Regions from separate parts of the Homo sapiens genome. Here region 2 is linked to region 1. Evidence: fine-mapped expression QTL. Tissue or cell type: vagina. Region 1 holds a variant in brackets; the other region holds the start of a gene. All regions are shown on one strand. Distances are between the middles of the regions.

The links. PIP is the estimated chance that this variant, and not a neighbour inherited with it, causes the effect.
Region 2: it holds the start of ZNF582-DT, and the variant in region 1 is fine-mapped to the expression of ZNF582-DT in vagina (GTEx, PIP 0.92).

The regions. Positions count from the first base shown.
Region 1 is chr19:57,137,099-57,145,203 of GRCh38, reverse strand. It overlaps ZIM3 (zinc finger imprinted 3), which reads left to right and starts at 2. Exons shown (of 5, transcript NM_052882.1): 1 at 2-345; 2 at 2,519-2,575; 3 at 6,606-6,732. The coding sequence starts at 2,561. The variant A/G (reference allele first, on the strand shown) is at 4,486.
Region 2 is chr19:56,390,158-56,398,262 of GRCh38, reverse strand. ZNF582-DT (ZNF582 divergent transcript) reads right to left here and starts at 4,587. Exons shown (of 2, transcript NR_037160.1): 1 at 4,210-4,587; 2 at 1-382. ZNF582 (zinc finger protein 582) reads left to right here and starts at 4,729. Exons shown (of 5, transcript NM_001320371.4): 1 at 4,729-5,043; 2 at 6,431-6,519; 3 at 7,762-7,888. The coding sequence starts at 6,511.

The sequences.
Region 1 (8,105 bases):
ATTCCATTGGAAACTGATTGGGCAGATTTGAAAATTAAGCTTTCACAATCACAATTTTTATGAGAGTTCATTCAGTTTTGGAGAAGTCGAGGAAAGAATTGGGAATTGAAATTTTGATGTGGCCTGATAGGATCAGGTGGGGCTTTTGATAGGAAGTGAGTGTTTTGGGTTGTTTCTTGACTGGATTATGATGCGGAATACAGCGGGTAGAGGGCCGATTAAGTTTTAGTCATTAGTGTAGCTTTTCAGTATACACGCCTTTTCATTTTCAGTCCCTTTCAGAAGAAAAGACCACAGGCATCAGAAATCAATCAACTTGCTAATTTATGCCAGATTCCACTGGAGGTAAGCTGATTTTTTTTTCTCCCTGAAAACCAAATGTCTGGGTTTTGTTTGTTTGTTTGTTTTGCATTTTTACTTAGTTTCATTTTTCTACCTCTCCTATTTGCTGGAATAAGCTAAATATTTTACATTGGTAGTTTAGATTTTTTTTTTAGTTGTCATATTGAAAAGTGATGCTCCCAGGACACTCAAAATTATTTTCGTGGCCCTCCAGTCCTTAGCATTACTGCTGGCCCACAGCTACTTCTAAAAACTTTTTATTGACAAATAATAATTGTGTTTATTTATGGGGTACAATGTGATGTTTTGATACATGTTTACATTGGGGGGATGATTAAATCAAGCTAATTAATCTATTTTTGTGGTGAAAGCATTTACAATTTACTGTTTTTTAAAATTATATATATTTTTTGTGCTAGAATTGGACTCCTCAAACTTTAATAAACATTAAAGTTGTGCCCGGCAAGTTTATTCTTTTTAAAAACATATTTACTTATTTAAAACTTTATTCCTGGCTGGTGTGGTGGCTCATGCATGTAATCCCAGGATTTGGGGAGGCTGAGGGAGGAGGATTGCTTGAGCCTAGGAGTTTGAGACCAGTTTAGGTGACATAGCAAGATCCCTTCTTTACAAAAAATAAAAAGTTAGCTGATGTGGTAGCATGCACCCATAGTCTTAACTATTCAGGAGGCCAAGGTAGGAGGATTGCTTGAGCCAGGGATTTTTAAACTGCTGTGAGCCGGGATCACATCACTGCACTCCAGCCTGGGTGACAGAATGAGACCCTGCCTCAATAAAATAAAATAAAAAATAAAAACTTTATTACTTAAACATTGAGACAGAGGTTTCACTATGTTGCACAGGCTGGTCTCAAACTCCTGGGCTTGGCTGGATGTGGTGGTTCACGCCTATAATCCCAGCACTTTGGGAGGCTGAGGCCGGCGGATCACTTGAGATCAGCAGCTCGAGACCAGCCTGAACAACATGGTAAAACCTTGTCTCTACTAAAAATGCAAAAATTAGCTGGGCATGGTGGTGCATGCCTGTAATCCCAGCTACACGGGAGGCTGAGGCAGGGGAATCCCTTGAACCCGGGAGGCAGAGGTTGCAGTGAGCCGAGACTGTGCCACTGCACTCCAGCCTGGGCGACAGAGCAAGACTTGGTCTTAAAAAAAAAAAAAAAAAAGTAACTCCTGGGCTCAACTGATCCTCCCACCTTGGCTTTCCAAAGTGCTGGGATTATAGGTGTGAGCTGCCACGCGTGGCCAAAATCTACGCTTTTGGCAAAGAATTACCAATGATCCAGCTGTCCCGCTTATGGCAAAGCTGAAGGGCTATCTGCATCCCATGTTCACTGCGGCGTTATTCGTCACGACCACAGCTGCTTCAGGATTCATGGTTTCTGCTCTCGGCCTTCCTTACTGTGCTCTAGCTGATCTGATGCTTGCCTCATTGTCTTTGCACAGGCTTGTTTTAAAGGTGCTGTTGAACTGCTGTTTAGCTTTCTCTCTCTCTCTTTTTTTTTTTTTTTGGGACGGAGTCTCGCTCTGTCGCCCAGGCTGGAGTGCGGTGGCGCGATCTCGGCTCACTGCAAGCTCCGCCTCCCGGGTTCCCGCCATTCTCCTGCCTCAGCCTCCCGAGTAGCTGGGACTACAGGCGCCCGCCACCACGCCTGGCTAATTTTGTTTTTGTATTTTTAGTAGAGACAGGGTTTCACCGTGTTGGCCAGGATGGTCTTGATCTCCTGACCTCGTGATCCGCCTGCCTCGGCCTCCCAAAGTGCTGGCATTACAGGCATGAGTCACCGCGCCCAGCCAATTTTGTATTTTTAGTAGAGACGGGGTTTCACCATGTTGGACAGGCTGGTCTCGAACTCCTGACCTCTGGTGATCTGCCTGCTTCAGCCTCCCAAAGTGCTGGGATTACAGGCGTGAGCCACCGTGCCTGGCTTGCACTTTCTTCTTTGAGACCCAGTCTCAATAAATAAACAAACACAAAAAAACCAAAACAAAAAAAAAAAAGACCTTCAGAAGGGGATCACTGAGGTACAAGTCAGGGCTTTTCTGAGTGGGTTAGGGAGAGCTTTTATCCAGGGTGTGGAGCATTCTATGCTGGATGATCCCCAACTTCCAAAGCGAATTCTGCTATTTCATGGTTCTTTTCCATTTTCCCTCAGATCTGCCTTCCCAAGACTTTACTGACTGGTGAAGAACAGGAAATGAACAATTCCCAGGTGAGCTTTTCAAAAAAATCTAAATCTCATAATGAATAAACGTATGACCCACGTTCCTCTTGCTCAGAATTAACTGTGCTAACCTTTTGGCATATTTTCCTCCTTCCTTCCATACTTCTATTAAAAGGTAACACACACTCTACTTTCTGCTTTCCTATTAAAGCTGAAACATTTCAAGTAAAGCTCAAGGCTGGGCATGGTGGCTCACACCTGTAATTCAGCAATCTAGGAGGCCAAGGCAGGCGGATCGCTTGAGTTCAGGAGTTTGAAACCAGCCTGGGCAACATGGCGAGATCCCGTCTCTACAAAAAATTAGCTGGGTGTGGTGGTGGTGGCGTACACCTGTAGTCTCAGCTACTCTGGAGGCGGAGGTGGGAGAATCGCTTGAACCTGGGAGGTTGAGGCTGCAGTGAGCCATGATTGTGCCACTGCACTCCAGCCTGGGTGACAGAGCATGACCCTGTCTCAAAAAAAAAAAAAAAAAAAGCTTGGTTACGGAAACACCAGGAGTTTGGTCTAGGTCCTGCTACTGGCTGCACAGAAAGCCAATGACTGAGACAATGGGTATTGCCAAGGAAGAAGCTTTAATCAGCTGCCGTAGGTGAAGAAATGGGAGCTCAGCCTCAAATCCATCTCCCTAACTCACTAAAACTAGGGGTTTATACAGCATGGAAGAAATATAACAATGTGTAAGAAAGCAAGACTAGGGAGGGGGCAAGGAGACATCTGTTGTGGTGAGTTTCAGTTGTGGTGAGTTTCAGTTGATTTTTTTTTTTTGAGGGAGTCTCGCTGTGTCACCCAGGCTGGAGTATAGTGGTGCAATCTCAGCTCACTGCAACCTCTGCCTCCCAGGTTCAAGCGATTCTCCTTCCTCAGCCTCCTGAGTTGCTGGGATTACAGGTGTGCGCACCACCACTCCTGGCTAATTTTTGTATTTTTTGGTAGAGACGGGGCTTCACCATGTTGGCCAGGCTGGCCTCGAAATCTTGACCTCAGGTGATCTGCCTGCCTTTGAGAGATCTGAAGGTCTTTTCCTGAGGAAGGAACTCAGACAAAACAAATACAGGTTTCAAGCTTTAACAGCGGAAGGGTCAATTTCTATGTTTATCCAAAAAACAAAAACAAAAACAAAAACAAAAAACAAAAAACCCACAACTGTCTATGGGATTACTGGGCTGGTTTCAGCTCAAGCATCTTTGTTTTGTTGTTTTTTTTTTTTTTTTTTTTTTTGAGACAGTCTCCCTCTGCCACCCAGGCTGGAGTGCAATGGCTTGATCTTGGCTCACTGCAACCTCCACCTCCCAGGTTCAAGCGATTCTCCTGCCTCAACCTCCTGAGCAGCTGGGATTACAGGCGCACGCCACCACGCCCACGCCCGGCTAATTTTTGTATTTTTAGTAGAGATGGGGTTTTACCATATTGGTCGGGCTGGTCTCGAACTCCTGACCTCAGGTGATCCACCCGCCTCAGCCTCCCAAAGTTCTGGGATTACAAGGGTGAGCCACCACGCCCAGCCTCAAGCATCTTTTGACCATTGCTCTTACAAACCTGGTCCACTGCTAAGCCCTGAGATGTAACAGTGTCATGTGTGTTTCACCCCAACCTATTTTTTAAATGATTGGTGTCTTGAATGTGTGTCCTCTCCCAACTTTGTTCGGTGTGTATTTGAAACAAATTCTGTAAATCCACACAATAAACTGAAAAATCATTAACTAGTACCAGTCGGAATCAAAGTAAATTATGGATAGCTGAAAGACCAAGGATAAGTTGTATGCAGTTAGGCAGATAGTAGTTTCTTTGCAATTGTTAAAATTAAGCCTGTTGACCAATTTCCTGTTGACAGGAAAGGCATACTAAGGCTGGGTGTGGTGGCTCACACCTGTAATCCCAGCACTTTGGGAGGCGAAGGC[A/G]GGAAGACCACTTGAGGCCAGGAGTTCAAGACCAGCCTGGACAATATAGTGAGACCCTGTCTACAAATAATAAAAAATGAGCTTAGCATGGTGGTGCATGCCTGTAGTCCCAGCTATTCTGGAGGCTGAGGTAGGAGGATTGCTTGATCCTGGGAGGTTGAGGCTGCAGTGAGCCATGATCATGCCACTGTACTCCAGCCTGGGTGGCAGAGCAAGAACCTGTGTCAAAAATTTAAAAAAAAAGGCCGGGTGCGGTGGCTCATCCCTTTAATCCCAGCTCTTCGGGAGGCCGATGCGGGCAGATCACTTGAGGTCAGGAGTTTGAGACCAACCTGGCCAACATGGTGAAACCCGTCTCTACTAAAAGTACAAAAATTAGCCAGGTGTCGTGGTGCGCGCCTGTAATCCCAGCTGCTCAGGAGGCTGAGGCAGGAGAATCGCTTGAACCCAGGAGGTGGAGGTTGCAGTGAGCCGAGATTGTGCCACTGCACTCCAGCCTGGGCTACCAGAGTGAGCCTCTGTCCCCTTCCCCGCCAAAAAAAATTAATAAATAAACAAAATTTTAAAAAAGCGAGCTAGAGCACAAACACAACTAAAAAATTTATCTGTCCAAGAGGACACTAGGTGCTGGCTCTTAGAGGTGAGATTTTCAGTTTCTGACAAAGGAATTCGCTTTACAAGTGTGACTTCCAACACTGTGAGTGTTGAGTGGCAGGGGCAAAATGCTGCCGTAAGTCCAGTATGGCTGCAGGAGAGACCCAGGGGAGTGCTGTGTGACCCTGTGTGAGTGGGAGTGTGGTAGACATGCCAGACGCTGGCCCCTGTAACAGGTGTCACCTGTTTCTCCCAAATGCAAGGAAAGCTGATAAATTAGGGGAGCGCACCATCCAGTCTGAATGTCGACTGTGGAAAATAGATTACAGTCAGTTTAGATGTAGCTGGAAGAATTAGGGGGCTATTGGCTTATTCTACTTATTTATGTATTTATTTATTTGAGATGGAGTCTCACTGTCACCCAGGCTGGAGTGCAGTGGTGTGATCTCAGCTCACTGCAACCTCCACCTCCCAGGGTTCAAGCGATTCTCCTGCCTCAGCCTCCTGAGTAGCTGGGATTACAGGCGCGCACCACGACACCTGGCTAATTTTTGTATTTTTAGTAGAGATGGGGTTTCACCATGTTGACGAGGCTGGTCTCGAACTCCTGACCCCGGGTGATCCACCTGTCTCAGCCTCCTGAAGTGCTGGGATTATAGGTGTGAGCCACCATGCCAGGCCTCTATTTAAAAAAGAATTTCTAATAGAGGCAGGATGTCTTAAAGAAAAATGGAAAATAGAAAAAAAATATAATAACATTTTCTTTTCTTTTCTTTTTCTTTTTCTTTTTTTTCTTGAGACAGAGTTTTGCTCTTGTTGCCCTGGCTGGAGTGCAGTGGCGCAATCTTGGCTCACTGCAGCCTCCACCTCCTGGGTTCAAGTGATTCTCCTGCCTCAGCCTCCTGAGTAGCTGGGATTACAGGCGCCTGCCACCATGCCTGGCTAATTTTTTGTATTTTTAGTAGAGATGGGGTTTCTTCATGTTGGCCAGACTGGTCTCGAACTCCTGACCTCAGGTGATCCACCCGCCTCGGCCTCCCAAAGTGCAGGGATTACAGGTGTGAGCCACCGTGCCCGGCCAAAATAATAAAATGTTCTTTGAGATAGGGGTTTTGCTATGTTCCCCAGCTAGCCTCAAACTCCTGGCCTCAAGCAATCCTCCTGCCTCGGCCTCCCAAAATGTTGGGATGATAGGTGTGAGCCACCATACTCGGCCTCTGCCTTACTCTAAGTAAAAGATGACAAGGTGGATTTATGAATGGTGGAGAAGATGGAAACTAATGGCTGGGTTTGAGATTCAGGAAGTAAAATTGGTGGGACTAGAGGGTGGAGAAAGATGGCAGTGTCATGAGTAGGTCTAAGGTTTATGGCTCATTGGCAAGATCCTCTGGGCACAATTTATTTTCATCCAGAGTAGAGTGAATTATGGACATGATTAAAGCTTGGTTCAGCAGAAACAAGTTTCTGTATCCTCAGCCGCAGGATTCAATGGCATTTTTATACTGATCGGGAATCTGTTGTTACAGGGAAGAGTGACCTTCGAGGATGTCACTGTGAACTTCACCCAGGGGGAGTGGCAGCGGCTGAATCCCGAACAGAGAAACTTGTACAGGGATGTGATGCTGGAGAATTACAGCAACCTTGTCTCTGTGGGTAAGGACGGCTTCCCGGGCAGGGGGACTCAAAACCTAAGGCGTGAAACACACAGACACCCCATGGCTGGCCAAATAGGGTTGGCACAGAGGTGCTCCTCACTTCGCATATGTTTTTGTAGAGCCGGGACTAGGGTGAGGCAAGTGAAGTGTACCAAGTGCTGTATTGAAGGAGCCCCCATTCTCAGGGTCGGCAAGTGCCGGGAGAATGAGTGAGGGCCTCTGTAAGTTTTGTGGGCTGGGTGCCCTGCCCTTCACCCTACTCCTGGTCTTGATTTTTGGAAAAGCTTTATCCTCCAAGAAGAAAAAGCATTTCTTTCTTTCCCTTCCTTCCCTCCCTCCCTCCCTCCCTCCCTCCCTGCCTCCTTCCCTTCCTCCCTTCCTACCTCCCTTCTTTCCTTCCTTCCTTCCTTCCTTCTTTCCTTCCTTCCTTCCTTCTTTCCTTCCTTCTTTCCTTCCTTCCTTCCTTCTTTCCTTCCTTCCTTCCTTCTTTCCTTCCTTCTTTCCTTCCTTCCTTCCTTCTTTCCTTCCTTCCTTCCTTCCTTCCTTCTTTCCTTCCTTCCTTCCTTCTTTCCTTCCTTCTTTCCTTCCTTCCTTCCTTCTTTCCTTCCTTCCTTCCTTCCTTCCTTCCTTTCTCCCTCCCTCCCTCTCTCCATTCCTCTCTCTTTCTTTATCTCCTTTCTCCTAACAGGGTCTGGCTGTGTCACCGAGGCTGGAGTGCAGTGGTGCAATCATAGCTCACTGTAGTATTTTTTTTTTTTGGAGACAGTCTCGCTCTGTCACCCAGGCTGGAGTGCAGTGGTGTGATCTCGGCTCACTGCAACCTCCGCCTCCCAGGTTCCAGTGATTTTCCTGCCTTAGCCTCCCGAGTAGCTGGGATTACAGACGTGCACCACCATGCCTGGCTAATTTTTGTATTTTTTGCACAGATGGGGTTTCTCCATGTTGGTGAGGCTAGTCTTGAACTCCTGACCTCAGATAACCGGCCCGCCTCAGCCTCCCAAAGTTCTGGTATTACAGGCATGAACCACCACGCCTGGCGTCACTGCAACATTGACCTGGGCTCAAGCCATCCTCCCACCTCAGCCTCCTGAATAGCTGGGACCACAGACGTGCACCACCACACGTGGCTTTGGTTTTGTAGAGACTGGGTCTTGCTATCTTCATGTTACATGTAACATGTTGGTCTCAAATTCCTGTGCTCTAGCAATTCTCCTATCTCGGCCTCCCAAAGTGCTGGGATTACAGGCATGAGCCGCCACACCCAGCCCAGAAAAAGCATTCTTTGTTTAGTTCGACTGCTCAGGTGCATTCCCTCAAACCATCCATCCACACAACTCCCCCCAACCAATGGCACATACCCACACACTGACA
Region 2 (8,105 bases), 750 kb after region 1:
ATTAGGGTGGGGCAGCCAGCTTCTGATTGGCACACCTGGTCCAACCAATCTTTGGGGCCTACGTAAATCAGACACCACCTCCTGAAGCCAGTCTATAAACCCCGTGCCCTTCGCCACGGACTGGAAGTCCTACTTGGGAGCCCTTTTCTCTCTGCAGGAGCTAGAGCTATTCTCTTTTCTCTTTCGCCTATTAAACCTCCGCTCTTAAACTCACTTCTTGTGTGTCCACGTCCTTGATTCCCTTGGCGTGAGACAACGAACCTCAGGTATTTACCCCAGACAATGATGCAGCTTCACCATCATTTTGCAAGGCTGAAGCAAGACGATCACTTGAGCTCCGGAGTTCAAGACCAGCCTGGGCAATACAGTGAGGCTCCCATCTCTACAGAAAAAAAAAAAGAAAAGAAAAATTAGCTGGTGTGGTGGTACGCACCTGTGTTCTCAGCTACTTGGGAGGCTGAGGTAGGAGGATCGCTTAAGCCCAGGAAGTTGAGGCTGCAGTAAGCCGTTTGTGCCACTGTGGCAAGCCAGATCTCACAAAAACTGAACAGGCAGGCCTCCATAAGAACTGTTCTAGCATTGACTAAATGGTTAGGTTAAATATTAAAGGCTGAGAGAGCCAGCGCCCTAACACAAAGGCTGATGATTTGAAGCATGACAAAATAATGAAGGAATGGTCACACTCCTCATACCAGGATCCATTTAGGATTAAACAAGTTTTATTGGGGGTCTAAAGGAACTCTCCAGACCTCCATAACTTAGTAGGAGACAAGATAAGGTAATTACCTTTGGCACTTGGACCCATCTAGAGTAAGTAAAATCACTGAGGCTCCAGAGGAATGTCCCCAAGGTCTATAACTCAGACCTTAGTTATAGATTAGAAGAAATTAATCACTTGTGTCTTTAGATGAATGCACACTAACATGTAGACATATAGCTTAGAAGGTAGATAAGCACTGGAAAACTTTGTAATTTTGAGTTGGTCTGGCAATATTTTTCTGGCCCTCTCCCTGTACCCGGTTACAGAAATAAAACTCTCTTCTTTCACAGTTCATCAGCATCTTGTTATAGGGCTGCGAGAATAAGCAGCCTGACCTTCAGTTCAGTCCAGGAACACCACTGCACACCAGCTTGGGTGACAGAGTGAGACCTTGTCTCTTAAAAAAAAAAGTCCTCAGAGAGAGGCCACATGTATTTTGTCCTCAGTTGTCACAAGGAAGATGCAATACATTTATTTTTCTCCTGGATTAGTACTGCAGAAAAGCCTTTTATCCTTTTTCTTTTTTGGCTATGGATGTCCAGTTGCTCCAGCACTGTTTGTTGAAAAGGTTATACTTCCTCCGTGGAAATTTATTATTATTATAATGCACAGATTTTAGGTCAGAAAAATTGGGGGAGGTGCCCAAGGTCACTCAGGGAGTAAGTAGCTAAGATTGGGTTAGAACCCACTTTGTTGTGTGATTCCTTGCTTGGATTACTATGCACAACAGAATATGGCCCACCTCCCCACAGTTGATCTCATTCAAGTGATAATGGGTGATCCTGAAACAGAAGGAATCTGGCAGAAGCACGGATATGGCTGGGGATAACAGGAGAGGGAGCTGCTGGAGTAACTCTGTGGGCGGCAAGCCACCCAGGTGCCAAGGCAAGAGACCGAGGACACGAGCTGTTCCAGTATAATAAAATATAAAACAAGAATAGTTATACCAGATATAGATCTTAGATATGATTATATATGAATATCATTAATCATTAGTTGGTAGCAATTACTCTTTATTCCAAATTATAATAATCCTCACTCTATAATCATAACCTGGGAAAAGCCAGGCCATATAGAGATAGGAGCTGAGGAGACATAGTGAGAAGTGACCAGAAGACAAGAGTGCGAGCCTTCTGTTATGCCCAGACAGGGCCACCAGAGGGCTCCTTGGTCTAGCGGTGATGCCAGCATCTGGGAAGATGCCCGTTGCCAAGCGGACCGTGGTCTAGCAGTAGTGTTAGTGTCAAGGAAAAACACCTGCTACGTAGCGGACCGGGAAAGGGAGTCTCCCTTTCCCCGGGGGAGTTTAGAGAAGACTCTACTCCTCCACCACTTGTGGAGGGCCTCAGGCCCACCTGCAGTTATCCGGAGGCCTAACCGTCTCCCTGTGATGCTGTGCTTCAGTGGTCACGCTCCTAGTCCACCTTCATGTTCCATCCTGTACACCTGGCTCTGCCGTTTAGTTAGCAGTAGCAAACCAGTGAAAGTACTAAGTCTCTAATAAGTAGAAATAATGGTGTAAGCTCTCTCTCTCTTTCTCCTCTCTCTCTCTGCCTCGGCTGCCAGGCAGGAAAGGGCCCCCTGTCCAGTGGACATGTGACCCATGTGGCCTTACCTATCATTGGAGATGGCTCACACTCCTTATCCTGCCCCTTTGTCTTGTATCCAATAAATATCAGCGCAGCCTGGCATTCGGGGCCACTACCAGTCTCCGCGTCTTGGTGGTAGTGGTCCCCTGGGCCCAGCTGTCTTTTCTTTTATCTCTGTCTTGCGTCTTTATTTCTACAATCTCTCGTCTCCGCACACGGGGAGAAACCAACCGACCCTGTGGGGCTGGACCCTACAAACTCTGCATGTGCTTTGGCACAGGAATGTGTACTGGGAAGTGGCTGACAAAAGACCTATGGATTCCATGGAATGGAGAGGCTAGCTCAGAGCATTCTCATACTCTTAAAAGGAAGAAACTGGAAGCCACCCTCTAAGACGACCCTGAATGATCCCTGCCTCCTAGTACTTATACTCTTGTGTAGCCTCCACCTACTTAGACTCACAGCTGATTTTGTGACCAAGAGTATAATGGTGTATGACTTCAGAGGCTTGGTTCAGAGTCAGAAGTGGCCATTTCATCATCCTCTAAATTTCTCTTTGGCAGATTAATGAATGTGAGAAAGTAAAAATGGTATAGAAGAAAGTTAGCCTGAGAGATGGCTGGCTTTGTACCTGTTTGGTCTTTTTCCTTCCTTTCCTCCATAAGCAAATACTGACGCATGTACATATAGACACACTCAACACAGTGGGATGTTAAAGGGAAACTAGAGCCACTCGCCCCTTCCCAAGATCAGAGAACATAGGAAAGATGATGACTTTTTGCATCTACCCTCTCCTCTTGAACTCGCAACACTGTCTTGAACCACAAATAAGGTCAAGTAGGATAAATCTACAACTGTCTCCTCAACTGTCCGCTCACAAGTGTGAAATTCAACCATCCTTGCTGAAGTTGTCTTTTAATATCAGTAATCAGCAATAACCAACCTCTGAGCTTTGCTTATATTATTAAATCATTTTATTTGACCCTCAGGACAAAGCTGCAAGCCCAGCATTACATTCTTCCTTTTATGGACAAAAAAAAAAAAACAAAACAAAACCGAGATAGGCACGAAGAAACTAATAAATGGCTGAAATGCTATTTGAATCCACATCTGTCTAATTCTAAAAGTGTGCTTTCCACCACATCACCGCACCTACAAGGAAAATGCAGCCTCTACCCTCTCCTGAAGAATGTGTAAAGAGGCAATATGGTGTGTTTTGGAAAAAGCATCTTTGCAGAAAGAAAGCATTAGCTTCAGTCATATTAGCATCCTTATCCAGCAGCAGTAGCATTATTTTACATATCAGTTACTCCTCCCCAACAACTCAATGAATTAGATGCCACAATCATCCTCACTTTCAAATGTGGAGACCGAGGCACATCTCTAAGACTGGAGTTCAGGCATTCTGGCTCCAGTCTTAGAGATGGTTAAGGGTTCACACTCTTAACCATTTATTACACCATAGAGCTCACCAGGTTTGAGGGAAACAGGATCAAATCAAAAGAGTCACTCAGGACTCCAGTCCTCACTCAAGGACAAACTGTTCCACCTCGGACAGGGAGAGTTTCCGCATTCTGAGACCCAGCATAACAGGTCCTGACCGGCATCTGGCACTCGGACTCCCAATCATACTGGATCACACTGGCTCGGGATGTGTAAAGTCCAGGGCTTCTCACATTTGATGACACCAAAGCCGCCTAAAAACAAGAGAGAATTAACAACTACCTACGGCGGTCTGATATTTGCCCAAGAGATGCCGCCCCATAAAACTCCTTTACATCTTTATAACGTTTTTATTTTGCGTTCTCCTTCATAACCCACATTTAACTCACCATAGATGTAATGTTTAAAATTAGTTACCAGATAAACTCTTACGCTTCCAAACTTTAAGGTTCCTTCGAAACCTTCTGGTAAAACTGTTGTTCCACGGAAATGGGAACGTAACGGATGAGGCAATCTTCCACAGCCGCACACAGTTGTGTATCCACCGCTAAACGGTCCCAGTCATACATTCAACGACCCACGCGGAGTCAGAAGCTACCACCACACACTGTCAAAATCACGCACACACAGTGACGGCCCCTTGCCCACTCGGTCACTCGCCCACAATCTCTCGCTAGAGAATCACACGCAGATAGCACACCCAGCACCACAGACCCCAGGAAGCAACCCAGGGACTCGAACACACGAACAGCACTCCTCCGCGCACTGCGCAGGCACGCCTGCGTCCGGCTCACCCTGAAACATCGCGAGATCCGGCTTCAAGGCCGGGCTGCTGCCTTTACGCCTAAAGACTATGTTTCCCGGAAGACACTGCGGCGCCGGCCCTATCATGGCGCAGCATCGGTGTGCTTTGTGCGTCTGCGCCATCTTCCGGCTGCGCACGGCGAATCCACCGGTACCGTGGTGGAAGCGCGCCCTGGGCTGCCGGGGGCGCGGCCGCGGTGGCACTTGGACCCGAGGAGGCGGCAGGTGAGAGGTTCCGGAGCTTTCCAGGCGCTCTGGGGTCCAGCAGGAGCTGGTGCCCGGGCCGGTTGGGTCTCAGGCCTGAGAAGAACGCAGACGTCTCGCCTCATCGTCGCTCTGTGGCTTTACCGGCGTGAGACTACATTTCCCGCCGGCCCTCGCGGCGTGCGCTTTCTGGCGCCCCCTTTCTGCTTCCAGCCTCATAGCCCAGGTGCATGGACCCCTTAGGTGGGTGCGCAGGGGTCTCCGACCCCCTGAAATTGCGGATGTTTTGCATTCACTGTTATGCGTGCCTTTTTTTTTTTTTAATCTGAGAGGAAATCTTGTTTCATGAGGTTCTCAGAGAGTTACAAGACCCCAGAAGACTTAGAACCGCTAGTTTAGAAAAACTTATACTTGGGAACATTTTATATGTTCAAATTCTATGTCCAGCAATGGGGAAACACTTGAGTGGATCACAGGCCATCCTTTGTAAATAGGATATCGTGCAGTTAATACAAATAATGCTTATAAAAGTGGTCATAATAAGGAAAAGCTGCCTATTACATCATATTAAGCAACATTCATAATTATTTCACTTACACGTTACTTAGAACCAAATGTTTGTAATGCAGTAGGCACCTTATATACTCCTTTACAGAGTACTTCTTGTTTAACAGTGAGCTCAAGAACTGGTTAAATGACAACACTGCGAATACTTGGGTGTTTTTTCTTCCAATTTTTTTGTTTTGTTTTGTTTTTAGCCTGTGTGTTAGTGAGTTTGACTTCTTTTTGCTGAATGTTCTCAAAGGATTCAGTAGTTAATATCTTTGCTTGTCAGTTTTTGATAGTCATTTTTGATAGTCACTTGGCATCCCATTATATGGCTGTGCCAAAAATGATTCAACCTCTTGGCTACTTGTGGACTTGCCTACTTACGTACTAATTTTCAGTTCTCCTATTTAGCAAATATTATTGGACATGCAGCTTTGTGCACTGCTGTGTCTCTATGGAAGGACACATTTATGTGCTGATAATGGAGCACTGGGCGTGCTGTGTGTAATTTGTCTCTTACTGTTCCTTCCAACTCTATCCCATTTGTTGATGCAAGGCATGCTCCATGAAGTGGCATGCACAAAGCCTCAGTTTGGGCTGTAGAGCTTTTTGTATATTTGGCGGTTGGGAAAAGAGCCAGGTAGACTTTCAAAGGTGTTATATTTGCTGCAGGAGAGAGTTAAATGGCCTAGTCCTGGAAAGGCTTTATTCTAGGCTGGGGCTATGCAAATGATGCAGGCCTTCTATGCTCCCTGGCTTGAGGGAAGCCCTCCTTGTCCTTGAGGTAACATGTGGGTCTCAGTCACTAGAACAGCCCTCAGCATCCCTGTCTTAGACTTGCATTTGCAGCAAAACAGAACCACTGGATGTTTAGGGGAAATGGGAGGGAAAGGACCACTGGTTCCCCTTTGCCTTGCAGCAGCTAAAGCTGGTTTCCTGGGGTTGGGTGAGGATCCCTTTGCCTCCCCCTCCTTCTCATTTTCTTGGTGGGCAGAGGGCAAGCAGGTGGGGACTTGTAACTTGGCATTCTAGGAACTGTGAGGCAAGCCTAGCCTCTCATGTTTGCTCTTTCCTCCCCCAGCTCTACCGTCGCAGGACTCTGCCCTTCCCCAAGAGAGGAACCAGAAGGAGGACCTATCAGCCCTTGAAATTCTAAAAGTCATGTCCCTTGTGAGTTTTTAAATCCCATAAATATTTGCTTTCCTTATCTTGAAACTTTCCACCTGGGTTCCATCCAGAAATTTGGTTCTCAGACTTTCCCATTTTAGGGAATAAAAGGACCAGGCAGGAGTCTCCTCTCCCATTGTCCTCTCCCCTCTGACAAATGCCCACAGATTTATTCTCTATAGCATTCTGCATCTCCTGATGGTTTTCGTCTGCTAGGAGGAGAAACTCATTTCCCTGTATGAAATGAGAGCATCCTTTGTAAGAACTGAAGTTTGAAGAGATGGAATGAATGCTTAGGAGCAATCACATATAGAAAAGCAGGGGAGGTGGTGTTGGTTGGTTTCAGTTTCAGCGCATGGTACAGTGTCCTGCTTTGGGAATGATTAATGATTGGATATGTAATTGAGGTTTGGCTGGGAATCCATCAAAAATTTGATGCCAGAATTAAAGTCTAGTTTGACGTTGGACAGAGCATTTGAATCTGGGACATCCTCCATTAGTTTCTTTAGCTTAAGAGGAAGAAAAGTACAGAGCTGAGGATGGTGAGCGATGTAGCAAGTGAGATGATCATCTAGGTGGGTGAGTGGTCAGGGCTTGGAAAAGCCTTAGAGATCTGATCCAACCTCGGGATCCAAAATAAGAGGATGTTTGAGTCAGTTGTTTCACTTGATAGAAAATTGTGCACTCAATAAAAGTTATCTCCATGGTTTTTCCCATGAAGAAAAATGCTTGTGTTATGTTCCAACATAATGATGAACTTTCATCTCCAAGAAATTCTTGACTTACATGAAAATCCTGTATCTAAGATAGAAAACATGTTTCCATAATTTTAAAAAATAAAATATTTGGGGAAAATCCATCAGAAATATTTTTTGTTGTTATTGTTATTCCAAAAGATAGAAGTGATAGGTCTCACCTTGAGAATTTATTGTATGCCAAGTATAGAGTGGGCAGTGTGCTTTATTACACTGTTTCTTAACAATAAGGAAAACTCCATTTAGCTTGATTTTAATTTTCATCCCAGACCTGTACACAGAGCATTGATTTGCAGTTAAAAGGAATGTTTGAGAACAATTTGATCATTCTGTTTTACTCATCCCCATTTCTTCTGTCACCTTTCACATTCAGTCCCACCCTTCTTGTTCAACAAAACAACCCCCCCTCCCGCAAAGACCTGCCCCATCTCCTTTCATCCCACTGTGAACCATTGAAATACATATATATCATACATGCCTGTCATTCCAGGGGTCAGAATTGTTCAGGGATGTGGCCATAGTCTTCTCCCAAGAAGAATGGCAGTGGTTGGCACCTGCTCAGAGGGATTTGTACAGAGACGTGATGTTGGAGACCTACAGCAACCTGGTCTCACTGGGTAAGGTGATCTCGTCTGTTAGTTTGGAGGTTATCCTTGGGCATGTTCCTTCCTGGTCAGTTTTTGGGTGCTTTTCAGTCTTATGATTGGTTGGTCATTTTTGAGGGGTTAAAGGGCGGCGCTGTCGGCTGAAGCTGCATCCCCCTACCCCCAGGCAACTGTCCCATCTTCCTCTGGCACTTCCTGCAACTGCCTCTCCTGCTTGATGACCAGGTCC